4 linked regions of the Homo sapiens genome follow. The protein of the gene in region 1 purifies or fractionates together with the protein of each later gene. This does not show direct contact. Each region holds a gene or a part of one and is shown in the gene's direction. Other genes may lie near its edges.

The links.
Region 2: the proteins of SPTAN1 (region 1) and LMNB1 purify together in Homo sapiens (affinity purification with western blotting; 2 studies listed by BioGRID, with this or other methods). This does not show direct contact.
Region 3: the proteins of SPTAN1 (region 1) and ECPAS fractionate together in Homo sapiens (co-fractionation; 2 studies listed by BioGRID). This does not show direct contact.
Region 4: the proteins of SPTAN1 (region 1) and MYB purify together in Homo sapiens (co-immunoprecipitation; 2 studies listed by IntAct). This does not show direct contact.

Annotation. Positions count from the first base shown.
Region 1 is NC_000009.12:128,625,587-128,632,586, forward strand, and holds part of SPTAN1 (spectrin alpha chain, non-erythrocytic 1), read left to right. Parts: intron 1-182; coding exon 183-392; intron 393-804; coding exon 805-1,101; intron 1,102-1,417; coding exon of another isoform or gene 1,418-1,504; intron 1,505-1,799; coding exon 1,800-1,912; intron 1,913-2,338; coding exon 2,339-2,356; intron 2,357-3,538; coding exon of another isoform or gene 3,539-3,601; intron 3,602-4,734; coding exon 4,735-4,789; intron 4,790-6,540; coding exon 6,541-6,737; intron 6,738-6,844; coding exon 6,845-6,898; intron 6,899-6,985; coding exon 6,986-7,000. UniProt on the Homo sapiens protein: Fodrin, which seems to be involved in secretion, interacts with calmodulin in a calcium-dependent manner and is thus candidate for the calcium-dependent movement of the cytoskeleton at the membrane.
Region 2 is NC_000005.10:126,814,529-126,822,765, forward strand, and holds part of LMNB1 (lamin-B1), read left to right. Parts: intron 1-641; exon of another isoform or gene 642-719; intron 720-2,106; exon of another isoform or gene 2,107-4,393; coding exon 4,394-4,614; intron 4,615-6,381; coding exon 6,382-6,607; intron 6,608-8,237. UniProt on the Homo sapiens protein: Lamins are intermediate filament proteins that assemble into a filamentous meshwork, and which constitute the major components of the nuclear lamina, a fibrous layer on the nucleoplasmic side of the inner nuclear membrane.
Region 3 is NC_000009.12:111,368,733-111,376,969, reverse strand, and holds part of ECPAS (proteasome adapter and scaffold protein ECM29), read left to right. Parts: intron 1-428; coding exon 429-494; intron 495-1,767; coding exon 1,768-1,857; intron 1,858-2,931; coding exon 2,932-2,998; intron 2,999-3,563; coding exon 3,564-3,655; intron 3,656-3,733; coding exon 3,734-3,800; intron 3,801-4,349; coding exon 4,350-4,541; intron 4,542-5,140; coding exon 5,141-5,349; intron 5,350-6,204; coding exon 6,205-6,248; intron 6,249-6,342; coding exon 6,343-6,535; intron 6,536-7,796; coding exon 7,797-7,935; intron 7,936-8,237. UniProt on the Homo sapiens protein: Adapter/scaffolding protein that binds to the 26S proteasome, motor proteins and other compartment specific proteins. May couple the proteasome to different compartments including endosome, endoplasmic reticulum and centrosome.
Region 4 is NC_000006.12:135,211,736-135,219,972, forward strand, and holds the end of MYB (transcriptional activator Myb), read left to right. Parts: intron 1-3,663; exon of another isoform or gene 3,664-3,765; intron 3,766-5,145; exon of another isoform or gene 5,146-6,128; coding exon 6,129-6,245; 3' UTR 6,246-7,437; downstream 7,438-8,237. UniProt on the Homo sapiens protein: Transcriptional activator; DNA-binding protein that specifically recognize the sequence 5'-YAAC[GT]G-3'. Plays an important role in the control of proliferation and differentiation of hematopoietic progenitor cells.

The DNA of each region.
Region 1 (7,000 bases):
CGCAGTGATCTGCGGTCTGAAGGAGAGCAGGAAAGGGGGCATGTGTGACTGAGTCTCAGCAGTGTCCAGGTGGACAGTTTGGCTTGGGCATCTGGGGGACATGCTGGTGCCATCTGAGCCTAGGAAGAGCAAGTTCCAGTCCTGTGGAGTCACCACAAATTGGCTTGTCACTCCTTGTTCAGGAAACTTTTGACGCTGGGCTGCAGGCCTTCCAGCAGGAAGGCATTGCCAACATCACTGCCCTCAAAGATCAGCTTCTCGCCGCCAAACACGTTCAGTCCAAGGCCATCGAGGCCCGGCACGCCTCCCTCATGAAGAGGTGGAGCCAGCTTCTGGCCAACTCAGCCGCCCGCAAGAAGAAGCTTCTGGAGGCTCAGAGTCACTTCCGCAAGGTGAGGATGGGGCCACGTGAAGCTTAGCTGGCCCACAGCTCAAGGAAGGACGCCCACCTTCTGTCTGCCCAGCTCTGCCACTCCCCCTTGAGGAAGCTGTGAGCTCAGTGCAGAGCTTTCAAACATGGGTGTGGCTGGCATCAATTAAAACCAGGGCAAATGAGAGGGCCCTGTGAGATCGCCATTCAGAAGCACGCAGGACAGACTAGAGACAAGGGCAAAGGGTAGGAAGGGGAAAAAAGGCTGGTGAAGACTTGAAGGGGGAGCAGGAGACAGGAGCAGAGGGGAGCTAAGCTCCCAGCAGGCTGTGTGCGCCTCTGATTCCCAGGAACCACCCCGCACCCCACCTCCTGCACTGCGTCGGCACGTCCAGCCCTGGCGACTCCGCCAACTCAGTCTCTTCTGCTTCCAGGTGGAGGACCTCTTCCTGACCTTCGCCAAAAAGGCTTCTGCCTTCAACAGCTGGTTTGAAAATGCAGAGGAGGACTTAACAGACCCCGTGCGCTGCAACTCCTTGGAAGAAATCAAAGCTTTGCGCGAGGCCCACGACGCCTTCCGCTCCTCCCTCAGCTCTGCCCAGGCTGACTTCAACCAGCTGGCCGAGCTGGACCGCCAGATCAAGAGCTTCCGCGTAGCCTCCAACCCCTACACCTGGTTTACCATGGAGGCCCTGGAGGAGACCTGGAGGAACCTACAGAAAATCATCAAGGTACACCTCCCGCTGCCCTCAGGAGCTGCTCGGCCTCCCAGAGCCCTCTCTGGGCCCTGCTCAGAGCCCACACTTAACTGAGTCACGACAAGACGAGCAGGATGGAGGAGCATGGTTTCATCAGAAGTTTCATTTCTTTTTGTGTTCTTGAGGCAGGGTCTCTGTCACCCAGGCTTCAGTGCAGTGGTGCTACCATGGCTCCCTGTAGCCTCAACCTCCCAGGCTCAGGTGATCCTCTTGCCTGAGCCTCTTGAATAACTGGGACTACAAGCACGTGCCACCACGCCTGGCTAATTATTTTAATTTTTGTAGACAGGGTGTTGCTATGTTGCCCAGGCTGGTCTTCAACTCCTGGCCTCAAGCAGTCCTCCTGCCCAGGCCTCCCAAAGTGCTGGGATTACAGGTGTGAGCCACTGTACCCAGCCAGAAGTTTCCATTTCTGACAGTCCAGCAACTCCCTGCTTGACTGACCAGTCGCTTCCCTCCAGGTCCGCCTCTTCCTTGAAGCCCCTGGGGGGTGGGAACAGAGAAAGAACTACCAAGTGCTCTGAGCCGGCCTCATGTCTCCCAGCCTCCTCCTCTCATCTTTGGGGAGGTTCCTTGTGGGGAGGCCACCACCACCCTGAGCCCATCTGTGAAGGAGGGGCTGGTGTCACTGCCACAGCAGCGCACAGCATCTGCCCCCCTTTGGCCCTCAGGAGAGGGAGCTGGAGCTGCAGAAGGAACAGCGGCGGCAGGAGGAGAACGACAAGCTGCGCCAGGAGTTTGCCCAGCACGCCAACGCCTTCCACCAGTGGATCCAAGAGACCAGGTGCCAGCCCGCTGGGGCCGGGGAGCAGCAGCATGTCCCTGCTGTACTTAAGCCCTGGGGAGCTTCCAGCCCCAAGGAGGTGGTGGTGCTTTGTGTAAAACCAGAGGCAGCCTGGGAATAAAGCTGGGCTGGCAACGCCTGGTCGGGCTCTGGAGCCGGGAGTGGGGGCATAGGTGGAGCAGCCTCTCAGTGCTGCATGTCCCAGACATCAAGTTGTTAGAGATCCCGGATTGAGTGGGACCATGCAGGGCGCGTGGTCAGCCCCAGCCATGACTTGGTGACAGACGATGCAGGGTCTGTGCGTTGGGTACTGATGTTCTTGCTTTTGTTTTCCTTTCTTTCTTGTGTCTTCTCTCTGTCCCCCCGATTGCTGCTGTTGTCCGGACACCACCTTGTCTCCCGGCTGCTTGGATCTGCTCTCCACAGGACATACCTCCTCGATGGGTTAATATTGTTTTCTTCCTTCTCTGGGCTTGTCATGTGGGGGTCTCGTGCGCTTGCCCCTCGTGGCCTGGCTTGTGGAGGATCCCGGGATGGGCCTTCCTGCCCAGGGCGGGCTGCACTTCCCCTCCCACCCTTCTCGTCACCTGATGAGGAGTGTGTGCCTTGCCCCATAGCCCATGGTCCCTGGTCCCCGATAGAGCCTTCAAGCCAGGGGGAGCCGTCCTTGCCTCACTGGGCGATTCCAAGGGCTCACTTTGGGTAGGGAAGGTGATGAAGCACGAAGGCCAGAGCTGGAGTCCAGAGGCCCTAAGAACCCCCGTGCCTGTCCAGCCACCGGGCTCTGTTGGGCTCTCACCTCTGCTTCCCCAGCGAGTCCAACAGTGGTCAGTGGGCATGAAGCAGATGGCAGTGCTGGGGGCTCAGGCAGGGTACAGTAAGTCCACAGCTGAGAAGGGCTGGGCACTGACACCCCCTAAGTAGCTGAGGCTGCCACTTTACTTTCCTGGGGTCAGGGAGGGTAACAAGACTGTCCGCCCTAATAGAAGGCAAAAATGCACCCGTTATGTGATAGACAGGACGTGGGAGGAGCCCCAGGGAGGAGCAGGGCTGGGCTGTCCCGCCCAGTCCCGGCAGGGACTTCTCTGCTTGGCCTGGGGCCTCTGCCTGGCCGGGTCACCTTTGTAATCTGCCAAGCCTGCTGTGAAAGCCAGGGCTGCTGGGACTGGAGTGGCTTGGCCTGCACTCCTGAGGCTCTGCACCCAGGCACATCAAGCCTGTATAGGCGGCCAGGGGAGAAATAGACCCATCCAGCCGGGCCACACATTCTGATGGCAGAGCAGCTGGGGACGTAGGGATCGCAGTTTCCGGCCTGTGCCCGTAGGACACCCTGGCCACCTGACTCCCCTCCCTGCCCCATGCCTGTGTCTGCTGGTCTTGCTCTTGTCTCCGTGAGGTGCCACGCTCCCCTCACCTTATGGCTCCTCCCAAGCCCTGCCCATCTTGCCCATTCCTAGTGTGAGCTGCCTGGGGTGAACCACTGGGCCTGCTGCCTCCAGGTACCCGCCGGGCACCAGGTTGCCCTTGCCTGCGCCCTGCCAGCTTGGGCTTTGTGTGTGTCTGTTGCAGTGTGCTCTTGCCTCCCCTCCCTTTGGTGTATTCATTTGGTTTCTTTTCTTTGAATAGCATAGCATATCGTCGGGTCATTCGTGTCTATCAGTATGAAGTTGGGGATGATCTGTCTGGAAGGTTTTTCTCCTTATTTCTCTTCTTACCTCACTGTGGCTTTACTGATGCACTCTTGACATCCCCAGGCGGCTCCACCCTGACTAACCTGCCGCCCTCGGCTGCTTGGGAAGGAGGGGTCTGTCCTCCCACTGCACCGGCACCCAGCCTCCTGCCCCCAGGTCCTGGGGGGCATTTTCCCCGGGGGGACATGGCGTGACTGTGAGTCTGACCTGCTGGGGTAGGAGGAAGCCTGGTGCCTTGCCTTGCTAGAGCACTTTGAACCTGGGGAGATTGCAGAGCTAACCCTGGCTCGCCGGGTTTTAAAAGGGTAGGTTGGGGTGAATGTGGGTACAGGGGAGCCTGGGCTAAAACCCCACCAAGGCCACACGCACCGTGTGATTCGTCCCTGCACGTAACCCTAACTCGTTTGTTGTCTTTGTTTACTGGTAGCCTCTGTGACCTGGCACTGTGTTCTCTTGGGAAGGAGGCTCCCCAGAGCCCATCTGCTCTCAGAACTTGGTCCTAGAGAGGAGGCTCCCTCCCTGGCTGTGTCTAGAGGATGGAACCGGGATCTGGGGTTTAGTCACAGCCATCTCTCTCCTTTTGGCACAGTTGGTCGTGATCTCCCAGCACTCCACTTGTGTCCTTTGTCTGCAGGGTCGTGCTCTCATTCCCCCTAGAATGGGGCTCCCTCCCTCAGGAACCTTGCCGGGACACTCCAGGGTTTCTGTGGGGAGGCTGTCAGGTTCTCAGCCTCCCCTCTGCCCTGAGGTCTCCTGTCTGTCAGGTGTCAGGGTGTGCCATCCCCCACATGGCTGCAGAGAGGATGCTCAGACAGGCCTGCAGCCACCCTGCACCCATGGGGGAATTTAAACTCCATTCCTGAGTCATCCTGGCCTTGGGAGCAAGACGAGTGGGCTCAGCCCTGGCCCACACCAAGGCAGCAGCTTCCCATCTCTAAAACGGGAGAAATGCTCCCTGCCATCCCTCGATCCCTGGGGCCCATTAGGTAAAGATGGCCAGTTGCAGTTAGGTTTGGTTTCCTTAAAAGGAATGTGAGGTTGCCAGGCATTGCTCTCTCTGAGAGAAGGTTCATTCTGAGCTCTCGGCCAGCTGGGAGCAGGCCCCTTTCCTCACTGTCCTTCCACGTTTAGGTCCTGTATGGTGGAAGAGTCGGGGACCCTCGAATCCCAGCTTGAAGCTACCAAAGTAAGTGCCCGTGGGGCTCTGGCCCAGCAGAGACCCTTCACCCAGCCACCCCCCAGGGTACCCCTTCCCTTCCTGGCTTAAAGTCAGGAACCAGATGTGCTATTATTGTACCCTTTTCCCTTGGCCTAAAGCAGTCTAGGGCTCTTCACTATCTCTCTCTCTTTTCTTTCTTTCTTCATGGAATCTCTCTCTCGCCCAGGCTGGAGTGCAGTGGTGCGATATTGGCTCACTGCAACCTCCACCTCCCAGGTCAAGCAATTCTCCTGCCTCAGCCTCCCAAATAGCTGTACTACAGATGTGTGCCACCACATTTGGCTAATTTTTGTTTATTTTTAATTATCTTTTGAGATGGAGTTTCACTCTTGTTGCCCAGGCTGGAGTGCAATGGACGTGGTCTTGGCTCACTGCAACCTCCACCTCCTGGGTTCAAGTGATCCTCCTGCCTCAACCTCCCAAGTAGCTGGGATTACAGGCGCCCACCACCACACCTGGGTAATTTTTGTATTTTTAGTAGAGACAGGGTTTCACCATGTTGGCCAGGCAGGCTGGTCTCGAACTCCTGACCTCGGCTGATCTGCCCGCCTCGGCCTCCCAAAGTGCTGGGATTACAAGCGTGAGCCACCACATCTGGCCTAGTTTTTATATTTTTAGTAGAGACAGTGTTTTGCCTTGTTGGCCAGGCCGGTCTGGAACTCCTGATCTCCAGTGATCTGTCCACCTCAGCCTCCCAAAGTGCTGGGATTACAAGCATGAGCCACCACTCCCGGCCGAGGGCTCTTCACTTTAAAGAAAGTCTTTGGGGCTGGGTGTGGTGACTTACACCTGTAATCCCAGCACTTTGGGAAGCCGAGGCGGGTGGATTGCTTGAAGTCAGGAGTTCGAGACCAGCCTGGCCAACATGGGGAAACCCCATCTCTACTAAAAATACAAAATATTAGCTGGGTGTGGTGGCAGGCACCTGTAATCCCAGCTACTCAGGAGGCTGAGGCAGGAGAATCACTTGATTCTGGGATGCGGAGGTTGCAGTGACCCGAGATCAGGCCATTGCACTCCAGCCTGGGTGACAAGAGCAAAACTCCCTCTGAAAAAAATTACTTGGGCATGGTGGCCTACACCTGCTCAAAGTCCAGCATGGGCAATATATAGCAAGACCTTGTCTTAAAAATAAGGCTGGGTGCAGTGGCTCATGCCTATAATCCCAGAACTTTGGGAGGCCAAGACAGGCAGATCACTTGAGCCTAGGAATTCAAGACCAGCCTGGTCAATGCAGTGAAACATCGCCTCTACTAAAAATACAAAAATTAGGCAGGTGTGGTGATGGGCACCTGTTAGTTCCAGCTACTCAGGAGATTGAGGCAGGAGAATCACTTGAACCCGGGAGGTTGCAGTGAGCGTGATTGCGCCACTGCACTCTAGCCTAGGCGACAGTGAGACTCCATCTCAAAAAAATTTATAAAAATCTTTGGCCACTGCTTCCTGGAGTCCTCGCCGTACTTGTCCTTGGCGTGCACTGCCCTCTGGCAGGTCTACCAGCTGCTTTGGAACCCTCACATTGAAAGTCTCTCCCTCTATTGAGGTGGTTGGGATTTCTTCAGCTTCACCCCATCCCACTATTCCTATTCTAGAATGTTCTTGTTTTACGAGGTCTCAGGCCAGGCCTGGAGCAGGAACCAGAGGGCAGTAAGTGGCTCCTGGGCTGGTGACTGAGCTGAGGGCCCCCGTCTGAGCATCTGTGCTCCCCACCCCTGCAGCGCAAGCACCAGGAAATCCGAGCCATGAGAAGTCAGCTCAAAAAGATCGAGGACCTGGGGGCCGCCATGGAGGAGGCCCTCATCCTGGACAACAAGTACACGGAGCACAGCACCGTGGGCCTCGCCCAGCAGTGGGACCAGCTGGACCAGCTGGGCATGCGCATGCAGCACAACCTGGAGCAGCAGATCCAGGCCAGGTACCCGGGAGGGCTGTGGGCCAGGCTCAGCCCAGAGCAGGGGGAGGAAAAGACACAGTCACCTGCTGTGTGGAGGGTCTGTTCCCTAATTTCTGTTTTTCTTCCAGGAACACAACAGGTGTGACTGAGGAGGCCCTCAAAGAATTCAGCATGATGTTTAAGTGAGTTCAGCCTTACTCGCCCTGGCTGGGTGGGGGGTGTTCGGCAGCAGGGCTGCCTGCTGAGCCGCCCTCGGCTTTGTGCTGCAGACACTTTGACAAGGA
Region 2 (8,237 bases), on another chromosome or scaffold:
TTTGCAAGTTGGTTTTTTTTTTTTTTTGAGACAGAATTTTGCTTTTGTTGCCCAAGCTGGAGTGCAATGGCACTATCTCAGCTCACTGCAACTTCTGCTTCCCAGGTTCAAGTGATTCTCCTGCCTCAGCCTCCTGAGTAGCTGGGATTACAGGCACGCGCTACCACGCCCAGCTAATTCTTTGTATTTTTAGTAGAAATGGGGTGCACCATGTTAGCCAGGTTGGTTTCAAACTCCTGACTTCAGGTACTCTGCCTACCTTGGCCTCCCAAAATGGAAGGGATTACAGGCGTGAGCTGCTGCCTTAAATGCTGGGATTACAGGTGTAAGCCACTGTGCCTGGCTGCAAGTTTTTTTTGTTAACCTTATCTTAGTGGTTTTTAAGTAATGTTAGGCAGTGCACTGGGGGTTTCCAGGAGCTAACTCCTTAGCAGATAGGAGACGAGCAATCCCTTTAGCCAAAATAGTTTTTAATTTCTCTGGGGTGAATCTTTCCTCTGTTCATTATTGGTAACAGACTTTATGGTAAACAGTATATTTTGAGGAATATTTTTATTAGTTGATAAATTTTAGCCTTAGAAAAATCATCAAAAATAAAAATGTTATCTTTTTGAATATTTTCCTATTGTTTGTCTTAATAGTGTTTGTTGCTGAGTCATATCAGTTTCATCATGCTGCCTATTAGGCCATAAGAATTTCCTTTTGGTTAAATAACTCAGGTTAGTGAAGTACTTCTTAAATTTTACTTAAAATTGACATGGCTTTAAAATACTGGTTTTACAAGATATATTTAAATAATATATAGATGGTAGCAGTGTTATGTTTTGGAATTAGAAATTTTACATTGCTTATAGCATCTCTAGATTTTTGACTTGGGACCAAATGAATTGGTTGGTTAGAGTCTGCTTGCCTTAGAGAAGAGTACAGTATGGTACTTAAAAACACCTCTAACTTTTGTTTTTCTAACACCCAGATTCTGGAGACTTTGGTTGCAGCTAGACCTTAATAAACCAGTACAATTACATTACATACTATAAAATATTTAAAAACCCCAAGATCATCAGAAGTCATAAAATTTAGGGTTAGTGGCAAGATCTGAGAGATCATCTAGATAGTTAGAGCTCTTCATTTTCCTTATGTGGAAACTGGTTTAGTGAGATTAGTTACAGCTTGCTTATAGCCTCATAGGTAGTTTCAATGGCAGAATTAGAAAGGAGAATCTAGGTCTAACTTCTCATACTGTGTTCCTTATATTTCACTACACAGGTGTAAGTGCAGCTACTGAAAATAGAATTTAAATATTTCTATTTAAAATACAGAATGATTCAGAGTAACTTTAAAATTTTTATACCTAGATTTTGATTTTTCCCTCTTAAAGAGCTCTACAACATCAAAGGCAGTCAAACAGAGACATCATTGGGTTTATAAATCTCGGCTCAGGTTATCTGTGAATCTTGGGTAGTTTATATCTCTCATCAACTCTCCTTTAGATTCTACCTTTTTGCCCATTCAAATATATCTTCTACCTCTGATATATGAAATAAAGGGAGGCATTTTGAACTTACATGACTTTTTTTTTTTCTTTTGGAGAAAAAGAAAATACAAGGAACATGGTAGCGGGGAAATGGATTTCTCCATTTATAGCATGATTTTTGCAAACGCAGTTAAATGCAAGTTCTCTGAGGTTCAGGGACTACCTTTGTAATATCCATCTTAAGAGGAGTGCCTGTCTAAATAGCATGTCAAGTCATATACTACTCTGGAATTTAATTAATTGATTGGTCAATTTTTTTTCTTTAAAAATATATTTTTGTGTGTGCGTGTGAACCAGGCACCCCCTCTGCCCCCAAATAGGTTTACAGTGACTCTTGATTATTTTTTAAATAACCTTGTTATTTTGGCATAATTTTAGATTTACAGAAAAGTTGGCAAAGTACTATAGACAGTTCTTGTTTTCCTCTCACCCATTTTCCCCTGTTGTTAGCATCTTATGTTACCATAGTATATTTGTCAAAACTAAGAAACTGACATTGGTATATTACTGTGAACTCGTCTCCAGACTATTTGGATTTCACCAGTTCTTCTGTTATCTTCTTTCTGTTCCAGGTGCCACATGCCTCCCCTGGTCTGTGACAGTTTCTTGGGCTTTCCTTGTTTTTTATGAGCTTGAGTCTTGAGTAAGATTGTCCAGGTATCCTGTAGACTGTCCCCCAATTTGGATTTGTCCGGTGCTTTTCACGTGATTAGACTGGGGTTTTGGGTTTTAAGTGCCCGTTTTGTCACATCGTATCAGGGATTGCACGTATGTGATAACCACATGACATCACTGGTGGTGTTTGGTTTAAGATAGTGTTTGTCAGGTTTCTCCACTGTCAACAGCGCTACTATTTTTCCGTTCCCATACACTGTTCATGGAAAACAGCTCACTAAGTCCAGCCTACCCTCAAGGGTGAAGGACAGGGCAGGACTTAAGCGCCACATTCTGGAGGGAAATCTACATTTATTAAATGGCATTCTTCTGTAACGATTTATCCATTCCCCGTTTGTTTGGTTTGTTTGTTTGTTTGTTTGTGTCCGTATGGACCATGGGCATTTACTTTATACTTTGGGTTGTAAGCTAATACTGCAGTATTTACTTTTTTGGCTTAAATTGTTTCATATTTGGCCACTGGGAGTTCTGTCAGCTTGGCCACTATGTCCCATTGTTTTTTGAGCACTTTGTTGCTTTCTGGTACTATAACATGCTCTAGGCTCATCTTGCATTTTCCCTGCCCCAGTCCTAGAATTATCCAGTCTCCAAGGAGCCCTGGTTCTTGTTATTGGAGAATGGTATATAGAAATTAAGATCTGGGCACTGAGTGTGCTCACTGGTACTGGGTATCACTGCTTCTTGGCCCTCTCACCGATAAAAGTGGGTAACATTTTATGTATGCTAACCCATGTGTATGCACATATTTATAACTTTTTCTGTCTAATCATTTGTGTTAAGATAAACATGAATTCATACAGATGTCTCTGACTTGAATCTAGTAGGACAGCATTCAATTTTGGCTTCCTTTCTGACATACCTGTATCTTTTCTCTCTCAGAGTGAGAAACCTGGTTTTTATCATCCATTTACTTATCTGTTCAGCCCCAGTATATGTTAAAGCAGTTTCAAAATTTTGAACCTGTACTGCTGTGAAAAGTAAATTTACCAGCAAGAGTACAGTTTTTATGTATTTGGTAGCTCCTTTTTATCTCTAGCCTTCTAGATTTAGTTTTTGCACATTAGATGCCCTTTCTCTCCTGCTCTGTTGCAGGTACTTGTGATTCTGAGGGCCTAAGCTATCCATCAGTCTTTTTGAGTTGTCACTTTCTGAGGCTACTGAGATGAATTCTGTCATGGAGAAACACAGAAGAATAATTACCCAGCGAGCCACAAGGTTTCTAAGATGAACTTTCTGGTGTAGGATGTGTGATTTTTAATTTTTTTATGCCAAATATACAGCTTCTATATTCACAGTAATACTTTACAAATCACCCTATATTGTGTGTCCTTTGTGTGCTAACTGAACATGAGATAGCCCAGCAATCCTAAAGGGACACTAGGTAGTGCCTTCCACATAGTAACCAGAGTCCCTTTGCCTTGGTTTCTGAATATTCCTCAGCAGTCTGCTAAAACGTACTTTTACCCACTCTTAGGTTTATTTTGTCAGTCAGTGTTTATATCTTTTTTTTTTTTTTTTTGAGACAGAGTCTCGCTCTGTTGCCCAGGTTGGAGTGCAATGGCGTGATCTTGGCTCACTGCAACCTCTGCCTCCGGGGTTCAAGCGATTGTCCTGCCTCAGCCTCCCAAGTAGCTGGGATTACAGGCGCCCACCACTACAACCTGCTAATTTTTTTTGTATTTTTAGTAGAGACGGGGTTTCGCCATGTTAGTCAGGCTGGTCTCAAACTCCTGACCTCAGGTGATCCACCTGCCCCGGCCTCCCAAAGTGTTGGGATTACAGGCGTAAGCCACCACACCCACCCAGTGTTCTTATCTTTTTAAGTTCTTTATTTAATTTATACTTTTGGAAGTAAAGGCTTTGTAAGGGAGCCAGACTTGACTTTTACCAAAACCACATCTTAACATTTTTTTGGCTAAGTACAGAAAAATTATATGTATATTTACAGAACTTACATTTGTGGAATATGTCTTTTATTCTTTTATCAGCCAAAACTATCCTGAGGTCTGTGTTTTGTATTTGAGGAATTTTGGGTTTTAATTTCTTAAAATCTCTTGAATTCTAGTGAGTTAGAGATTCCATAGGGTTGTACTGTTTTCCAGTCTAGGAAATGATTTAAAATAGCTGCCTGGTGCTAATGTTGGAATGTTCCTAGAAAGTAAATATGTTTCCTTGCATCTTAAGTCTAGAGCATGTTTGGAAAGGATTCAAGAATTAGAGGACTTGCTTGCTAAAGAAAAAGACAACTCTCGTCGCATGCTGACAGACAAAGAGAGAGAGATGGCGGAAATAAGGGATCAAATGCAGCAACAGCTGAATGACTATGAACAGCTTCTTGATGTAAAGTTAGCCCTGGACATGGAAATCAGTGCTTACAGGAAACTCTTAGAAGGCGAAGAAGAGAGGTAAGGAACTTAAGGGTCACCCTACCTTATGGTCCACTTTTTGCCTCTCACCCTTTTTATTGAAATAAAAATAAATAGCATTTTAAAAAGAACTTTATTTTCTTGGTCATTTCTTTGAACACCTAGGTATAGAAGTAGTAATAGATCATATTTCTACCTCATCGCAGAAAATGTTGCTCAAGTACTCTTAGTTTATTTATTATTATTACTTTAAATGCTGAACTGCATCAGGATGGATTAGTTCCTTTGAGATTTTAAGTGTTTTGGTGATTTAATATATTGTAAAATGCCAAACTGGCTGAAAGAGACTTTACATATTATTTATTTATTTATTTATTTATTTATTTATTTATTTATTTATTTTTGAGACAGAGTCTCAGCCTGTTGCCCAGGCTAGAGTGCAGTGGTGTGATTCTCGGCTCACTGCAACCTTCACCTCCTGGTTTCAAGCGATTTGCCTACCTCAGCCTCCTGAGTAACTGGGATTACAGGCGTGTGTCACCACACCCGGCTAATTTTGTTTTTAGTAGAGAAGAGGTTTCACCATGTTGGCCAGGCTGGTCTCAAACTCCTGACTGCAAGTGACCCACCCGCCTCAGCCTCCCAAAGTGCTAGGATTACAGGTGTGAGCCACCACGCCCGGCTGGCTTTATATATATTTTAAATCTGGTCAATGTATAAATATTTTTGACACCTGTTCTCAGAAAAGAGTTCCAAAAGGGCCAGGTGCATTGCCTCATGCCTGTAATCCCGGCACTTTGGGAGGCCAAGGCAGGCGGATCACATGAGGTCAGGAGTTCAAGACCAGCCTGGTCAACATGGTGAAACTCCGTCTCTAATGAAAATACAAAAATTAGCTGGGCATGGTGGCAGGCACCTGTAATCCCAGCTACTTGGGAGGCTGAGACAGAATTGCTTGAACCTGGGAGGTGGAGTTTGCAGTGAGCCAAGATTGTGCCATTGCACTCCAGCCTGGGTGACAAGAGTGAAACTCTGTCTCACAAAAAAAAGAAAAAGAAAAAAAAAGTTCCAAAAGGAAAGTGGCTGATTTAGGATAAAAAGCCAGATAATTTTAATATTATATCCGTTGTGATCATAAGAAAGTACAGGTACGAAAAGAGAAAAAAGTACACCAACTATAACAGTGGCTGTGGTGGGTGGTGGTAGATCAGATGACTTTCTACCCATTTACCAGACTTCTTGCATTATGGTTATATTACTTCCATCCCTAGAGAAAACATTCAGATTGTTATTTTTTAAAAAAGAAAATTGACGATGGGCACCTTATGAAGAAGTTTACATTAGTTAAGGTAAACTTTGGCTTTGGCTAACAGATTGTAAGTAATATTTTGCTTTAGAAATGCATGGGTGGGATATTCTTCTTCTTATTATTATTATTTTGAGACAGGTTTTCACTCTGTCACCCAGGCTAGAGTGCAGTGGTGTGATCTCAGCTCACTGCAGCCTCTGCCTCCCGGGTTCAAGCCATTCTCCTGCCTCAGCCTCCTGAGTAGCTAGTATTACAGGCGCCCACCACCACGCCTGGCTAATTTTTGTATTTTTAGTAGAGACGGGGTTTCACCATGTTGGTCAGGCTGATCTTGAACTCCTGACCTCAAGCAATCCACCTGCCTTGGCCTCCCAAAGTGCTGTTGGGTTACAGACATGAGCCTCTGTGCCCAGCCCTTGTTTTTTTGTTTTTTTTTTTTTTAAGGCGAGAAGGGCATATGTGTTTTAAAAATGAATTGTTTTATTTTTCCCATATAGGTTGAAGCTGTCTCCAAGCCCTTCTTCCCGTGTGACAGTATCCCGAGCATCCTCAAGTCGTAGTGTACGTACAACTAGAGGAAAGCGGAAGAGGGTTGATGTGGAAGAATCAGAGGCGAGTAGTAGTGTTAGCATCTCTCATTCCGCCTCAGCCACTGGAAATGTTTGCATCGAAGAAATTGATGTTGATGGGAAATTTATCCGCTTGAAGAACACTTCTGAACAGGTAATAAAATAGACCCTTTTTTTTCTAGCAAGGCTTTGTGGATTGCTAGATTCTCTTGCAATTGTCATAGCTCCTTAGTTTTTGTTTGGATTCATTACGTCTTCATGGAATAAGGGTTTATGTCCTTTTTACTTAAATTCATAAAATAAAATAAAAATTAAAATAGGAGGAGGAAGAGTTAGGTACCCTTAGTAGTTTAAAGATTTGCTTCATTAACCCTTCTTTAGAGGGCCAGGGCTTTTTTGAAAAGCATGTTCCTTTTATCACAGTGGTTCTGAGGATGAGTTATTATTATTCTCTGCCCTAGCCAAATTTGTGAAGAAGTTGGAGCAATTGGATGAAAATGGTGGATATTCTTTCGGTCATTAACTTAATAAAAAGCTTACTGAAAGAAGGAGATAAGAGCCTGGACTCAGATATTAAGGGAATATTTTTCCCTGCAAATAAATGAATGAACAAATGCTAATACTTTACATGAAAAATAGCATGAAGCCTTATTTTGAAATATGTTTAAAAGTAAACATGAAGTATTCATAGCAGAGATTTCTGAAATTTAGGGCTGGGGCTTTCGGGAGCTCTGTAGTGTGGGCCTTCCCTAGCTCTGCATCAAGGAGCTGGAGGCCATGATGGGTTGTGAGATGATACTAGAGGAAGGCATGGTCTGGGAGCGTGCAGGCGGCAGTGGGATGGATGTCACATCTTGAAACATATGTTCAGGGCCTGCTAAAAGTAGTTTTGAAAATTAGTCTTTTCTCACCACAGTTATTAAAACTATCTTGCATGTGGATGAATATGTAATTTGGATGAGTGAAGGAGCACTAATGAGCACCAACAGTTTTAATGCTAAAGAGAATAGGCTCTAAGGTCTCTTTGTAGCCTTTTTTTTTTTTTTGAGTCTTGCTCTGTTGCCCAGGTCGGAGTGCAGTGGCATGATCTTGGCTCCTCCACCTCTTGGGTTCAAGAGATTCTCCTGCCTCAGCCTCCTGAGTAGCTGGGATTACAGGTGCACGCAAGCACGCCTGCTGATTTTTGTATTTTTACACAGGGCTTCACCATGTTGGCCAGGCTGGTCTCCAACTCCTGACCTCAGGTGATCCACCCGCCTTGGCCTCCTAAAGTGCTGGGATTACAGGCATGGGCCACCATGCCCAGCCCCACTGACCCTTTTTTTGAGCCCCTTATGCTTTCATGTATGAGAGCTGAATGTGGGCAGAAGTGGGACAGATGCAGAAGGAAAATGACAGATTTTCTTCTGTTTCTAAGCTTATGTGTCTATTTTAAAAGCTTGAAGTAATCCAATACTTGATGTTTAAAAATTGTGATTATGACAGCTAGATAGTGCTGTAAATTTGAAAGACCCACCTTATCTAGCAGTGAATTTGACCATTTAATTTGGTTCATACCCTGTTCTTCCAGTTCTGTCCTCTTTAAAGTCAAGTACCTTACTAATTAACTCATTGTTGAAGTTACTGTTTGACAAAATGACAGAATCGTGTTTTCTTTTTATAGTAGGAAAACCTGAAATGTGGGAAGATGACCATAAAGCGGTCTTAGTTTAACTGCCTGTATGGATTAATTTATTTGATTATTCCACAACTTTCTTTATCTTTGAAGTAACACCCCTCACCCT
Region 3 (8,237 bases), about 17 Mb from region 1:
TGTTAGATTAAAATACCTTCATAGATACGAAGGGTAATTACAAAGTTAAAGAACTGCACGTATAAAATTTTCTACTGCTTAGACACAATTTTAAAAACCTTAGAAATTTGTTTAGTCAGTTCCTTTATTTAGTGGATGGAGAACCTCAGGCTCAAGAAGGCTGGATGACTTGCCCAGAGCCATACTATGCTGATTTCTTAACTGTTATCTGAATTTCTCACCTGTAGTGTGGTGCTGGTTCCCCTGGTAAATTGTTGAGTGTAGGTCAAAAGAAATTAGAGTTAGACTTGATGTTTGCCTTTGTTATAGCTACGGATTATTTTTTTTTAAAGTTCTTTAGCTTGGAAGTGAAAGTCTTTTATGGGTGTTTGTGCGGATTATTCCTAATTAATTGAATGTGCCGGGTGACTTTAATTTCTCTTCTTTAGGCTGCGATGGATAGTGCTCGGCTTAGTGCTGCCAAATCTTCTCCAATGATGGAAACAATCAACATGGTGAGTGTCTTAAATAATAATGAGAGGGTTTGTTTGCTTACCTGAAAGTGTAATTCTTCAAAGTCTTCAGGCTATGTTAAATGAAGCAGAGACTTATGGGATGAGTCAAGCAGCTGTTGTGACTCCAGTTTTTTCTTAGTATATTTCTCTTTTCTTCTCTGTTACTAAGTGGAATAAATAATTCCCCAAATACCAGAAACAGTTGGTCCAAATTTGTATTACAAGAGACAACAACATATCAAGAGCTCTCTATAAATTTACATCTGTAGTCTTTTGATCTGCCTATTTAGAAAGGTTCAGAGTTGTGCCTGTGCCTAATAGTTATCTTTGGGAGGAACTAGGAAAGTTATAAGCTGTGGAGGTATTTAATGAAGTAGGTAACATAAAGGTATGTGAAGAGATTGGGCAATGTCGATATGTTGTTTTAGTCATAGGAAGGCATTTGCAGTAAAGGGCTGCTTGGCATTCTGAGGTTCTGATTTCTAAACTTCCTGGAGTCTTGGTAAAGTTACTCTGTTGTGCATTCCCTGTAATGGTTAGTTAGCTATGATTGTGTTTACTGGAAATTAGTTTGCTAAGCAGATCTGTACCTTTAGCAGGACTCTGAAGGTATAGATCCAACCCCTAAAAAAACTGAAGTGTACAAAAAACTATGTTAAACTGGTGAAGAGAAGTAGCTATTTTTTAGTGCCTGCTGGGGGAGTATTACCAAAATTTGGTCTAAGAATGTTATGTCTTAGTTGGATTATTGGGGGGAAATAAAAATTTAAAGAAATAGGAATAGTTAGTGAATACCATTTAGTTATATTCATTAGTAATAGAAAACATGTTAATTGCATTTTCAAAAATAAAGGCCAGCAATTTATAGGAAAAGTCATCTAAGAAGTTGACTCATTAGAGGGGGTTTGGTAGGGTAGGCCCACTGTAGAAGATCAATATTTAGTTTAGGTTTTTTATACTAAACATGGATTGATAAAGAGGAAGTAGGCCCAGAAAGATTCTTCATTCTTGAGTAATCATTATTTTTCTTTTTTAGCAAATTGATGTTTTTCATTTTTTTGTTTGTTTTTAGTGTTGAATCACTGATGAATAATTTTTCTGTTTGTAGTACAATAGTGGTTTTAATATTGAAATCAGAGCAGAAGCAAGCAGTGATTTTTCAACTTCATGTCAAATCCAGTTGGTACACGTTTGACAAGGGCAGTTTTTAATTGAAGATGTGGTCCTGACTTATTTGCCAAGGCTTACCTTTATATTTGTCCTTTTTCAAAAGTGCCTGCAATACCTTGATGTGTCAGTGCTGGGCGAGCTAGTTCCTAGGTTGTGTGAACTGATCAGAAGTGGTGTAGGTCTTGGAACTAAGGTAAGTGTACTTTCCACAAGAGGAAATGTGCATCTTCATTAGTTCTGGCCATAAGGATATAACAGCCATCATGTTTGAAATTCATGTTTTACCACAAAATCTAATATTATACACTAACCATTTTATTTCTGTGGTTGCACTGATAACTGAAAACATGTAACTGGTTCAAGAAATAAAACATCTAACTGTTCCAGTAAGTATTAACTTATTTAGTGGAATCATTTCTGTTCTCTGGTTGCCGTGTACATACCCTCTGGGTTGTCATTCATTAGCAGTTCATGGAAATGCACATCCAGTTATTAGGGCATGGATTGTTTTAGGTGGCAATTGCATTTTTCACAGAGGGGTCAGCAGTGTTTGAATAGAAAAATGTCCTAGTTTTCAAGATCTTTGAAGGATCAGACACCCCCCTACCACCCTTTTAACAACAAATTAATAACTCACATTTTTTCTTATGACAAAATTAACACTTGCTGGTATTTTAAAATTTTAGCATTTATAGATTAGGAGAAAGTTAAAATAAAAATTGTCCAGAATTTTGCCATACAGAGATAACTGCTGTTAATATTTTGAAGTGTTTCCTTCCAGTCTTTTCTGCACATGTATCTTCTGCAGTGTCCTCTTCTAATGGCCGTATGATACTCCACTGTATGGATGTAACATCATTTATTTTACTCCATCAAGGAACATCTGATTTGTTTTCAGTTTTTGAAAAAAATAGTAAAGCACTGTGATGAGTGTCTTCAGGCACACCTGAAGATATTTGGTTAAATTTCTGGAAATGGAAATGTTAGCACAGTGATGGACAAGATGACATATTTTGCTTTTCCAGAAGATTGTACCAGTTTTCTTTCTTTTTCACAATGTCTGAGATCACCCATCTTTCTCTTGGAGGTTTAAAAAAAATCGCTGCATTACTAGTTTAAGAGTTTGCCTTTTTCTATATTGAGTCCTGGAGGGGGTATTAGGCTTCATGTATTTTATATGTTTAAATTTTTGGCACCTAAGCCAATGGTTTGGTAGGTAGAACATTGTGACCATCAGATTTAGACCTTTGCTTTTGTAACCCTGTAGGGTGGCTGTGCCAGTGTCATTGTGTCATTAACTACTCAGTGTCCTCAGGACCTAACACCTTACTCAGGTGAGTTTGTCAAGGGATGTGTGGTGATATTTTTGCACAGCCCTGTCTTGTGTGACAGAGTTTTAAAAAGGAAAAATACTTATCATTCAGACCTGCTTGTGATGCTGTGTGCCTTTTCTCCCCTCAGTCCCCTGACTCCTTCATTTCTTTGTCTGCAGGAGGTGCAGAGTTTATCAAGTTTAGCAGCTTTTCACTGTTCATAAACATTTGATTATTCCTTAGTGGTATAAGGAGGTAAAAGTATCCTCTTTTCCACAGGACTTACCATTGATAGCTGATTTTACATCAGCATTTTTCTCTTCTTAGATTGGCTTCTAGACTGGACTAGTGTTCTTTATATACCTCGTTCTTATTTTGCATCTTTTTCCACGATATTCTAGTTTAATTTTAACTTTATATCATGTAAAAGGAAGCAAATGGATATATAAATATAACATCCAGAAATCTAAACTACTGTGGAGTAAATCAGATGTTAATTACAGGGTTAGGTTTGTTTGGGTTCTGGGAACAGAGTGGAACATTTGGTCAACCAAGTATCAGATTTTTTTCTCTTTATTTCTGGTAGGTAAACTTATGAGTGCTTTGCTGAGTGGCCTGACAGATCGGAACAGTGTGATTCAGAAATCTTGTGCATTTGCTATGGGCCATTTAGTTCGGGTGAGTTAAATTTCTTGCTTAGTTAAATAAAACTCTTTGACAGTTATAAAGAAATACTTAGGATTGTTTCTTTTTCAGACCTCACGGGATAGCAGCACTGAAAAACTCCTGCAGAAGCTCAATGGGTGGTATATGGAGAAAGAAGGTACCTTTCTTTTTCTATTTTATGTCATTTTAAATTTAGATGTTAACAGCCCAGTAAAACAGTACAAATTAGGTCTTACCCTCCATGATTTTATGTGATTTGCTAGAAACATTTGTTTCTTTTCTTTTCTTTTTTTTTGAGATGGTGTCTGGCTTTGTCGCTGAGGTTGGAGTGCAGTGGTGCTATCTCAGCTCACTGCAACCTCAGCCTCCTGGGCTCAAGCGATTCTTGTGTCTCAGCCTCCTGAGTAGCTGGAACTACAGGCACGTGCCACCACGCCTGGTTAATTTTTGTATTTTTTGTATAGGTGGGGTTTCGCCATGTTGCCCAGGCTGGTCTTAAACTCCCGAGCTCAAGCTATCTGCTCACCTTGGCCTCTCAAAGTGCTGGGATTACAGGTGTAAGCCACCACAACCCAGCCTGCTAGAAACATTTCTAATTGATTTTACCTGTTTGTTTTGCTATTATATGAGTTGAACAATAGCCTGTTTAGATCAGTTACCCTTAAAAACAATAAATATCGTAAAGATTTTGGTTTCTCCTTTTCAGAACCTATCTACAAGACCTCTTGTGCTTTGACTATTCATGCTATTGGACGATACAGCCCTGATGTATTAAAGAATCATGCAAAAGAAGTCCTGCCTCTGGCATTTTTAGGCATGCATGAAATTGCTGATGAGGAGAAATCCGAAAAAGAAGAATGTAATTTATGGACCGAAGTGTGGCAGGAAAACGTACCTGGTTAGTAGTGTGGCCTGAGTTAAACCTGCTTCTTAGGAATCACAGCTAGAATTTTTTACTTGCATTCGTTATTCATAAACTCCTCTGAAGTTACTTTCCCAGGACCTTAATATGCATCCCATTTAGTTTTAAACCCATCCAAATTGCTCATCCCATTTAGTTTTGAACCCATCCAAATTGCTGAGTTCTCAAGGTTGGCACTCAGGATTTTTGTCTTTACTCATTCATCACTGCCCACATGAGAGAATATAAACCCTGTGAGCAAGGAGAGCTTTACATTTTTAATTAAGAGTGTGATTTTATGTGGCCTTAGAGTATTTTAGAGTAGTTTTCTAAATGTGTTTTTCACCTTGTCGCATATTAATTGATGATGCCCATTTGTGTGATACGTTCCTGTGGGCACCCAAGTTCGTAAAGTTCTACTATTGTGAGAATAAGTCACAACACCAACACACTTTCTCTCCCTTTGAGAGAGTGGTGTGTTTTAACAGTTGAGAGTCACTGCTTTTAGACTGTTGGTCACTGACTTTTTTTCAGGTTTAGAAAAATCAGTTAATTTTTCTTGTCACTTAAAAGTTGTTTTAATTTTGCTTTCCTAGGATCCTTTGGTGGCATTCGATTATACCTGCAGGAGTTAATTACTATTACCCAGAAGGCTTTGCAGTCTCAGTCCTGGAAAATGAAAGCCCAGGGTGCAATTGCCATGGCATCAATTGCAAAACAGACTAGCTCTCTAGTACCTCCATATCTCGGAATGATACTGACCGCATTGCTGCAAGGCCTGGCTGGAAGAACGTGGGCAGGAAAGGTAAAGGAACCATTCATACCCAGTTAAAGGGATTCTGACTTCATCTTTCATTTTGCATAATAGTAACGATCTGGTTTTGTGTAACTTTTCCAATGGATTATTTTTGTGAACTAGATTTCCTAGACAGTGGAAGCTTTGGGTAAACCTTGCCTGATTAACTGTGGTATTTCCTCTCAAACTGCAACCCGTGTGGCCTTGCATAATGGACAGTAATGCTGGAGATAGATACATTTTCCATATTCAGCCTTCCAAGTTACGTCTTAAACCAACTTGTCAGCATTTTGTACCTGTTGACCTCATGAACAGATCAGGATTGGGCATAGAAAGATCAGGATTGGGCATATGTGAAATAGAGTAGCAAGGTAGCCTGCCTCTAAACCTGGGGCTGAAGATGCCCATCTCTGGGACCTATGAATTAGTAACAGTTATTTTTTTACACAAGAGCTTTAGTAGGATTCTTAACAGTGAACACTCAGTGGGGAACATGAGATTGTGGTAACCTAATGATCTTTATGTTGTAAAGGTCAATAGTGGCCCATGCAGGAATGAAGTAGTACCGGACTGGGAGTCAGACATCATTCCAATTCTGTGGTTGACACTGTTTTCTGTGAGACCTGGGTCGAATCAGTTCTTTAGGCTTCTATGAAATGGAGGTGAAGATAATTATCCTACATCCATGGTTTGGAGTAAAACTTGGTGGATGTGCTTAAAATTATGCATTAAAGATAAGGTGACTGTTGTTAATTTTTGTTGTCATAGTTATCAAAAATTCCTAAGGTAATTGTAATCATGGTTTAGACAGTGTAAATGACATGTTTGGGCTTAATAGTATTTCCTCATCTTTCAACCCCTTAGGAGGAGCTATTGAAAGCCATTGCCTGTGTGGTGACAGCTTGCAGGTAAATGTTCTTTCAATGAAGATGCCATTTCTTAAACTGGACCCGAAAACTGCAGCCTTTATTAACTTCTGATGCTTTTGTATGGACCCTGTAGTGCAGAGCTGGAAAAGTCTGTGCCCAATCAACCCAGCACAAATGAAATTCTTCAAGCTGTTCTGAAGGAATGTAGCAAAGAGAATGTCAAATACAAGATTGTAGCAATCAGCTGTGCAGCTGATATCTTGAAGGCCACCAAAGAGGACAGATTCCAGGAGTTCTCTAACATTGTCATACCTCTCATCAAGAAGGTAATACCACCTGTATCCTCAGTTCTGGTTTATACTTTAAAAAGAAAAAGTTAAAAAATTGTTTTCCCCTATGTCCTGATTATTAGGATTAGTTTAGCTGCAAGTAGCAGAGAAATTCCAAAATACGGCCTTAAACAAGATAGTCAATGCTATGTTTCTCACAAAGCGTTGGGAGCATCACAAAGTGTTCAGGTATTCCGTCTCTTTACAGCTCTGAACTCTGCCATTTCTAGGGTGTGGTCATCATCCTCATGGTCCACAGTGTGTTTGTGTTCTAGGCAGGAATGCAGAGGAGATGAAGCAAGGATGAAGGATACAGTGGGCATGCCATGTCTCTCTTGAGGAGAGTTCCTGGGCACCGCTAGATGGCACTTTGACTTATAGCCATCCTGTTGGTCAGTACTTAGCCACACCTGGCAGCAGACTGAGTCTTCATTCTGGGTGTCCATTTGCCCTCCATGGGAGAAGGGGAGAGTGGATTTGGTAGTGAATGAACAGTTTATGTCATAATAAGCTTTGCCTTGGCTAATAAGCTAAGCCACCCCAGCCATCCTAGAGTAAAGGCAAGAAGCTCAGTGTGCCATGTGAATTGCCTCTGCCATATAGTGGAGGATTTGGGTCAAAAAAAGACTCAAGTTTCATGTGGAAAATGGAATACTCATTTTTAAAAGTTGGGCACTGGTCCCCCCCCCAAAAAAAAGGGTGTGGTTTCCCTGTTTATTTGTGAAACATGAAATATTTTAAGTAACATTCTTATTTCTTATTGCTCCTAAATTGCAGTTGTTTTCTTTCAGTAATAAGGCTATTTAAATAATTTCCATTACAAACATAGTGATAGCATATGGATTTGGGAGACTTGTGTTTTAAGTTGATTACATCACTAGCAAGCTGGACCAGTTGCTTCTCTTAGCCTCTGTTTCTCTATCAAGAAAGAGTTTGGATTTAGATCATTACTGAGTTTCTTCCATCTTTAAAATCTGATTCTAATGCAAGTCTTTTCATGTTATGCTCAAAAGACTACATATGCAGTATTTTTTAGCTTTTGTTTACAGATGCCTGTAAAGTATTGCCTAAATTTATTAGAGATACAGTATTCTGGTTATAAATTCTTGTTGTAAATAGGGAAACTTATGGTAGAGAATTTATCATTTAACTCTTGGTTAATATCTCCTGCCTTGGTTGGTACCCTGATAGCTTTAATAGTATACCTGTAACTTTGAAGAAGAAAATATTACATTTTCTTTTCTTTGATATATCCTAGAACTCACTTGAAAGCAGTGGGGTCCGGACAACCAAAAATGAAGAGGAGAATGAAAAGGAAAAGGAGCTCCAGCTGGAATATCTGCTGGGTGCCTTTGAAAGCCTGGGCAAAGCCTGGCCGCGAAACGCGGAGACCCAACGTAAGCACCAGAAACTGCATTTGAAGTGCTGTAACCAGAGGTTACTTAATGAGAGCGAAGAATTTTCTCTATGACAAATTATAGTTATTGTTTCTTATCGAGCCTGATTGATTAATAATGAGAATTATCCAGTGAAAGTTTTTTGTCTACATGAGTCTGTGATCTCACTGATCATTGTACCGCTGTAGCTAGGGCTGCTGTAAGAAAGTATCACAGACTGGGTGGCTTAGCAGAAATTTATTTTCTCACAATTCTGGAGGATAGAAGTCTGAGATTTCGAGATCAAGGCGTCAGCAGGGTTA
Region 4 (8,237 bases), on another chromosome or scaffold:
TGCAATTGTTAGTTAGGCTTGGGAAGTGGAGTCATTGGTGGATGAGGCAACTTCCAATCACCATCTCGATTTTTATTTCCCTAACTTTTAAGATTATTTTCTATAGAAAATCAGTAGTGCTGAAGTTGGAGTCATTTAATTGATTTGTGCCAACCTAGGGAAGCATTTACTCTCGAGAAAAGTTTGGTAACCATTAATCTTACCTTAGCAACATTTCAGTTTAAGCTTATCTCTGACTTTCCAAAGACAACTAAAGATTTCTACAGTCTCTCTTATAACTGATCCATTTTTTCAAAAGATGTCCCTTTGGGAAGGAATTCTCATTTTTAGAATTTTAGTCCAGAGGAAGTATTTTTTTTTCAGATAGGTGAAATAGAATAAGCAGAAAATTCTTATTTTTTACTGTTTTATATACCATTGATGCCTGCTTATTTTAAAACAAAACACAATAAAAACATGATACCATCTGATGAGTTGCTTTGGTTTTACTTTTTTTTTTTTTTTTTTTTTTTTTTTTTTTTTAGTTTATACAAGTTTCTTATTAGGTCAGCAAATTGTAAAACACATAATTTGCCAAGGCTTTTGAAGCCAGCAGATACTGGGTGAAGTTGCTGTATGAATATAATAATAAGAACCGTTTTTGTTCAGCTTGATGAAAAAACTATTCATGTTCTAAATGAAAATGTGAAGATCATCTAATTCTGACAGAAAACCACCTGTGGACATGGTCTTGTTTCTTTTTATTTCTTCTGTTTTCTACAAAAGATGGCAATATTTATTTAAAGTGCTTTAACAGGATATCCCAGTTAAAGCTTTGACAGACTGTTTATAGTTCACTTCTGCCCAGGGGCAATTAAAGGCACATTACAGGATAAGCGAGATGACTCCCCGGCCACAGGAGGAGGATGTGTGGGTAGGATTATTAATGTTGAAATGAATTATGATAGAGTGACATGTCTGCAAGAGCACCATGGGTTAGTAACTTAACAAGAATTCATATGCAGAAACCCATAATTCTCAGCAGTTCTTTAGGGTAAATGAAACTAAAGTTTAGGGAGAGAGAACAAGGAGAATTTGCAAAGATATGTATGACAGTATTTAAAAATGTTCTTCCAGCACAAAGACATTAATCTTCCTTTGTCAAAATAATTCTTTCTGCATGAAAAGTTGGCATGGGGCTCCCAGGCTTCAGGTAAGATGGGAGAAAGGGAGCGTTTCTTTTTTTTTGTACCAAAGTACTCAATCTTCTGATCTTCCTTGACTTTCACGACATAGGCATATGTCTACTCTGACCAGTTTGTTTCATTTATTGTGGTAAGATGTGCTTGTCTTGTGCTTTCCTGGTGCAGAAAAGGAGCTGCCTCGCTCATGCTTGGTGGCCTTTTTGTTCCTACACACAGTGGTTCTCGTACATGGTGGCTACCACATCCTGGTGTTTGTCTATACTGGGAGAATCAGGCGTTCCAAGTCATCTTGGCTGCCCTAGCTCTGAGCTTCAGGGGATATATGACTCAGAAATGCTATGCTTTCTGGAATTTGGATATTTCATTTTTATTTGTTTCTTGGTAAATTCTCTTTTGACTTAGGAGAAGCTAACTATTTGGAAAGGTCTCTCAGAACTCTAATTACAAATATATGGTACCTTCTTTATATTGATCTCATTTTTAAATACCTAGTCCTGGAGGAAGAGCTAAATATGAATACAGTGATGAGCTGTGTAGGGGATCTCACAGGAACACAGTCAGATTTCAAGTTGAAAATAGATTCAGTTGATAATACTTAGTACTAGATTCTCCTGAATCGACTTTGGGAATTCTGAGTCAACCTAAGGACTATATTACAAAGGATCAGACCTTGACTTTTAGGCCAGGTGTAGTGGCTCATGCCTGTAATCCCAGCACTTTAGGAAGCCAAGGCAAGTGGATCACTTCAGTCCAGGAGGTTGAGACTAGCCTGTGCAACACAGCGAGACCCTGTCTCTACCAAAAATACAAAAATTAGCCAGGTGTAGTGTAGCACCTGCCTGTAGTCTGAGCTACTGAGGAGGCTGAGGTTGGAGAATCAACTTTAACCCCGGATATGGAGGCTGCAGTGAGCTGTGATCATGCCAGCCTGGGCAAGGAGCAAGACCCTCTCTCAAAAACGAAAACAAAAAAGACACAGAACTTGACTTTTAACAGGAGGCATAGTAATAGCAAGCATAAGATTGTTTTAACATAGCATTTAAGATAATTTACGCATTTAGAAAATTAATTCTGGCTGGTTGTAGTAGCTTATCCTTAATCCTAACCCTATGAGAGGCCAAGGCAGGAAGATCACCTGAGGCCAGGAGTTTGAGACCAGCCTAGGCAACATAGCGAGACCCCCGCTCTCTACAAAAAATTTTTTTTAAAAAACATAGCTGGGCATGGTGACACACTCCTGTAGTCCCAGCTACTCAGGAGGCTGAGGCGGGAGGCTTGCTTGAGGCCAGGAGTTTGAGGGAGCTGTGATCACGCCCCTGCACTCCAGCCTGGGCAACAGAATGAGGCCCTATATCTAAAAAAAAGAAAAATGGACAAGAAAATTCTATATTGATTGAAGCCCAGCTAAATAGAAAAAAAAAAATTCTAATAGGCCATTTTAAAGACTTTGGAAAAATTCTTAGCTAGAGTAAAACAGAAGCAATCCTTTCTTTCCTGGTTCTCACATCTCCATTCTCACCTTCATTCCCCTTCCCCTCCATTTGTTTCAAGTATTTTTCTTTTCTATGTGTGTCTTTATGTAAATTTAAATTTACCTACAAGATATTATGATATTAAGATATTTCATTCTGCTTCCTGTTTTGTCACTTGTTCTTTAAGATCCAAGTCCTTGGCTCCATGTGCATCTAATCCTTGCCATAAGCCCTGCATCGTACTTCATATTCACCATATTGAACTATTCACCCTCAAGTAGTCACTATTAAATGTCACACTGTTGTAGCGACTACAAATGCAAGCTCAGTAACTGAAAAGATAACATTAAATTTTGTTTTTTAATTGGTTTCCTGTGTCAATTTCATGTTTCGGGAATTTGTATGGACAGATAGACACCAGAGAGATATGCGTATTTCACCTGCATGCTTGAGGCTAGAGAAACATGATTTATTCAGAACTATTTCAAATACTGTAACTAACCTGGTAATTTTGTTTAGGAAAACATTAAATTCGGAATAGAAGGCAATTCAGAATACCTGTCTGTTATCTTTGTCTTGTCATTTTTGAGATACTCAGTTCCTGGAAAATATTATGATAATCCATCTTGCTATGTAGTATTTCAAGTTATATGTTGAGCCTCTGAGCTTGCAGAGTGAACATTTCTATTCATAGACAGTGCTGTTGACATCAGTGGGGAGATGGCACAAGCTTTGTGCCCTAGGAAAGTTTAAAAGCTAGAACATTACACTGCAAACCCTATGTCAGGAAACTTTGTTGCAGCAACTAGGCAAGGAAACCCTACCACTGTACCCATACCTTGTTTTAGTAGAATTATGTTTCTTTGCTAAGAAGTCTGGTGACTCTCACACCCCATCTCAGCACTTTCCTGGATTCCAAGGCCCTGGTGCCCTGAGCACACAACTTCCCAGGTTCCTTTTATTGTTTCTGATAAGAACTCGAATTAGAGGCAGCGTCTGGTACTCACCAGGGGTGTGGTCCCATGGGTGACATTCTTGCTCCATCATTTCTTACCCAGGTAACCTTGAGTATGGCGCCTAAATCCTCTCTTCCTTTCAAATTGCCTGGTCTGTAAAATGGATGCAGTGAATGGTAGCTATGCCACAGGTGTTTTGTGTGAGAATTAAATGAGAGGAGTTATATCAATAACACTTAGAGGCATGCGGTGCCTATAGTGAGGGCTTGTTTTATGTTGTCGTTTAACCCTTTCTTTCTCAGCCCTCCCCCACTCCACATCCCCTCCCACTGGCAATGTACAAATTGCAGCTTCCTGCCTCTTTCCTGCTATCTCGCTCCCTGGATGACATCCCTGCGTTTCCACCTCTCTCTCCCCTAATCTTAGCTGTTTTCACCCTTTCCCCACAGCATTGCCTTGACAGTTCCTCAGTGTCCCATCCCCTCTTCCCATGGACAACACCACAAACCTGCGCACACGGCCTGTTATTATTCCTCCTGTTTCACCTGTGTCCATTCTGTCTCATAAAGGACACTGTAGGCTCTGAACAGCTAAGGCCTTTCTTATTCTTTTGTCCCATGGAAAATAATCCCTCCAGATAGCAATACCAGGAATAGTGCCTTTTCTAACCCACTGGTTTCCTTTTGAGCTTACAGCCACCAAATCTTATATCTGTTTGTTTCTGTTCCCCTCTCTGCATTGACTGCTAGAGAGATCAGAGTCAAGCAGGAGGTTACATCTAGCTGGGGCACTGTGCTTTATGCTGGTGTTTCGTGTGCAAATCTCATACCATCTTCATGTTACAGTTGTTCCTTAGTGTCCATGGGGGATTTGTTTCAGAACCCGCAAGGACACCAAAGTCCAGGGATGCTCAAGTCCCTGATATAAAATAGCATTGTGTTTGCATATAATCTACACACATCTTACCATATAATTTTTTTTATTATTTGTATACATTCGTGGGGTACAAGTGTAATTTTGTTACATGGATGTATTGCATAGTGGTCAAAGTCGAGGCTGTGAGTGTATTTATCGTTGGAATAATGTACATTGTACCCGTTCATTCCTGTATACTTTAAGTCATCTCTAGATTACTTATAATAGCTAATACAATGTAAATGCTATGGAAATAGTTGTTATATTGTTAGGGGATAATGACAAGGAAAACACCTATACATGTTCAATACACAGCAATTATTTTTTTCTGAATATTTTTGATCTGCCATTGATTGAATCTATGGATGTGGAACCCACAGATATGGGACCCACAGATGCAGAGGGCCAACTGTGTTTATTTTTTCCAAATTTGTTTCCCTGTTATGACTCTTCTTTATACACATTTTTAAACTCTGTTGTCTTGTATTTCTTTTCTAATCATCTTACGTCCTTTTGGAAACCAAGTGGGGCATAAATAGTACATGTTTGCATTTGAGGCAACACAGAGGCATCGCAGGAGCTGGAGACAGCAAAGTTCAAAGCCAGTCCACCACTTACCTACAGAGTGGCCTTGGGCAAGTTACCTCCATTTTCTGTCTCCATTCTCGAGCCTGTCTAGAGAGAGAATGAACCTGCCTCCCGAGGTGATGGTGCTGTTTTAATGAAATAATGCATGTGAAATGTGAAGTGCCACTGTCCCTGGCATGGAGATGCTGTCCTTAGATATTAGGTCCATCTTGTATCTTCTAGTGTATCTTTAAAAATTAAACTATACTGGCTTCATGCCTGTAATCTCAGCACTTTGGGAGGCCAAGACCGGCAGATCACTTGAGTCCAGGAGTTCAAGACCAACCTGGGCAACATGGTGAAACCCTGTCTCTACAGAAAATACAAAAATTAGTGGGGCTTGGTGGCACGTGCCTGTAGTCCCAGCTGCTTGGGTAGCTGAGGTAGGAGGATCACTTGAGCCCAGGAGGCTGAGGCTACAGTGAGCTGTGATTGCACCAATACCGATCAGCCTGGTATGACAGAGCATGACTCTGTCTCAAAAAAAAAAGGAAAAAAATTAAACTATACTGATAAATATTTCTAAAGTAATTGATGAAAACATATATATGACACTTAGCAGGTGTTGATCAATTCCAGTGCGTGCATGAGCTGCTTTGCACTGTGGCTACAGCACTCAGCAGTTTGCTTAGTGAGTAGATGGCCATAGCTCACTTTAGGTATCTGGAGAATAATGCTCATTCCTGTCTCCAGCTTTGTAAAATTGCCTAATAGACGGAAGGCATTAAAATATGAAGATGGGATTATATCTTATGAAGCTGCTTGGAATGGGTTTTCCCTCTTAACAAATAATTTCTGATCATCCATATCCCTTAAGAACACCGGATTTCTGGGGGCCAGGGAGGTAAGATTCTATCTGACAAAGCCTTCCTGGTGTCAACCACTTGCCATCTGTTGGTCAGTGCTGGCCCTGCTGGGTCTATAGAATGAGCTTCTTTGTCTGACGCTCCTGTTGCCATCCCTTTCTCCATCAGCCTTGTAGCAGTACCTGGGAACCTGCATCCTGTGGAAAGATGGAGGAGCAGATGACATCTTCCAGTCAAGCTCGTAAATACGTGAATGCATTCTCAGCCCGGACGCTGGTCATGTGAGACATTTCCAGAAAAGCATTATGGTTTTCAGAACACTTCAAGTTGACTTGGGATATATCATTCCTCAACATGAAACTTTTCATGAATGGGAGAAGAACCTATTTTTGTTGTGGTACAACAGTTGAGAGCAGCACCAAGTGCATTTAGTTGAATGAAGTCTTCTTGGATTTCACCCAACTAAAAGGATTTTTAAAAATAAATAACAGTCTTACCTAAATTATTAGGTAATGAATTGTAGCCAGTTGTTAATATCTTAATGCAGATTTTTTTAAAAAAAACATAAAATGATTTATCTGTATTTTAAAGGATCCAACAGATCAGTATTTTTTCCTGTGATGGGTTTTTTGAAATTTGACACATTAAAAGGTACTCCAGTATTTCACTTTTCTCGATCACTAAACATATGCATATATTTTTAAAAATCAGTAAAAGCATTACTCTAAGTGTAGACTTAATACCATGTGACATTTAATCCAGATTGTAAATGCTCATTTATGGTTAATGACATTGAAGGTACATTTATTGTACCAAACCATTTTATGAGTTTTCTGTTAGCTTGCTTTAAAAATTATTACTGTAAGAAATAGTTTTATAAAAAATTATATTTTTATTCAGTAATTTAATTTTGTAAATGCCAAATGAAAAACGTTTTTTGCTGCTATGGTCTTAGCCTGTAGACATGCTGCTAGTATCAGAGGGGCAGTAGAGCTTGGACAGAAAGAAAAGAAACTTGGTGTTAGGTAATTGACTATGCACTAGTATTTCAGACTTTTTAATTTTATATATATATACATTTTTTTTCCTTCTGCAATACATTTGAAAACTTGTTTGGGAGACTCTGCATTTTTTATTGTGGTTTTTTTGTTATTGTTGGTTTATACAAGCATGCGTTGCACTTCTTTTTTGGGAGATGTGTGTTGTTGATGTTCTATGTTTTGTTTTGAGTGTAGCCTGACTGTTTTATAATTTGGGAGTTCTGCATTTGATCCGCATCCCCTGTGGTTTCTAAGTGTATGGTCTCAGAACTGTTGCATGGATCCTGTGTTTGCAACTGGGGAGACAGAAACTGTGGTTGATAGCCAGTCACTGCCTTAAGAACATTTGATGCAAGATGGCCAGCACTGAACTTTTGAGATATGACGGTGTACTTACTGCCTTGTAGCAAAATAAAGATGTGCCCTTATTTTACCTACTTTTGTTTTCTCTCTTATTTGTCACTATGGACAACAGTTACACTTTAAAGAAAATGGAGCAGACTCAAGGCACTTTCCTCTAATAATTGCACACCATATGCACTTCGTGTGAAGAAGCCAGGAATCATTACAATGGAAAAGAAAGAACAAGCAAACTGAGTTAAATAGTTCACAAACAATCACATGGACAATGGGGAGGAATCTTCCAGAATGCATCAGTCAGGGTCTAGCGGCATTTGAGTGCGGATGCTGTAAGGGGAATTCGTTCACAAATGTACTGATACCACAGATGTGGGCAGGGGCTAGGAGAGCAACAGGGTGCAGGCCTGAAGGCACCTGGAAGGCCGCCTGGAGGGGGACAGTCAGGAAAGCAGGAGCCCTTGAGAGGAGCACTAGCCTTTGATGAGACCACTGCCATCGAAGGAGACCTCACAGGGAGGGAGCCAAGGGTAAACCCTAACTTTGTTTCCCCATTTCTCCTATCTCTGCCTAGGGGTCCTCACTGGCAGAACCAACCAGAAGCTGGAGGACAAGGGAGCTCCCATATGGGAGCCGGCCTGTGAGCCTTCAAGGGTATGCGGAGTCGTTTGTTCAAAATAGCCCCATTTCACAGATGAATCTCTACTGGCTCCATCTTCAGCTTAGTGTTCTCTTCACTATGCTGTAATATCCCTTTTAACATAAATTCCTTTAAATTTCCTTTACTCACTCTGTTCCAATTCTGAATTCTCATGGGCATGATACACTTGGTGTTCATAGAGCCAAGGATTTGTTACGCCTAATTACTAGTTTTTGAGTC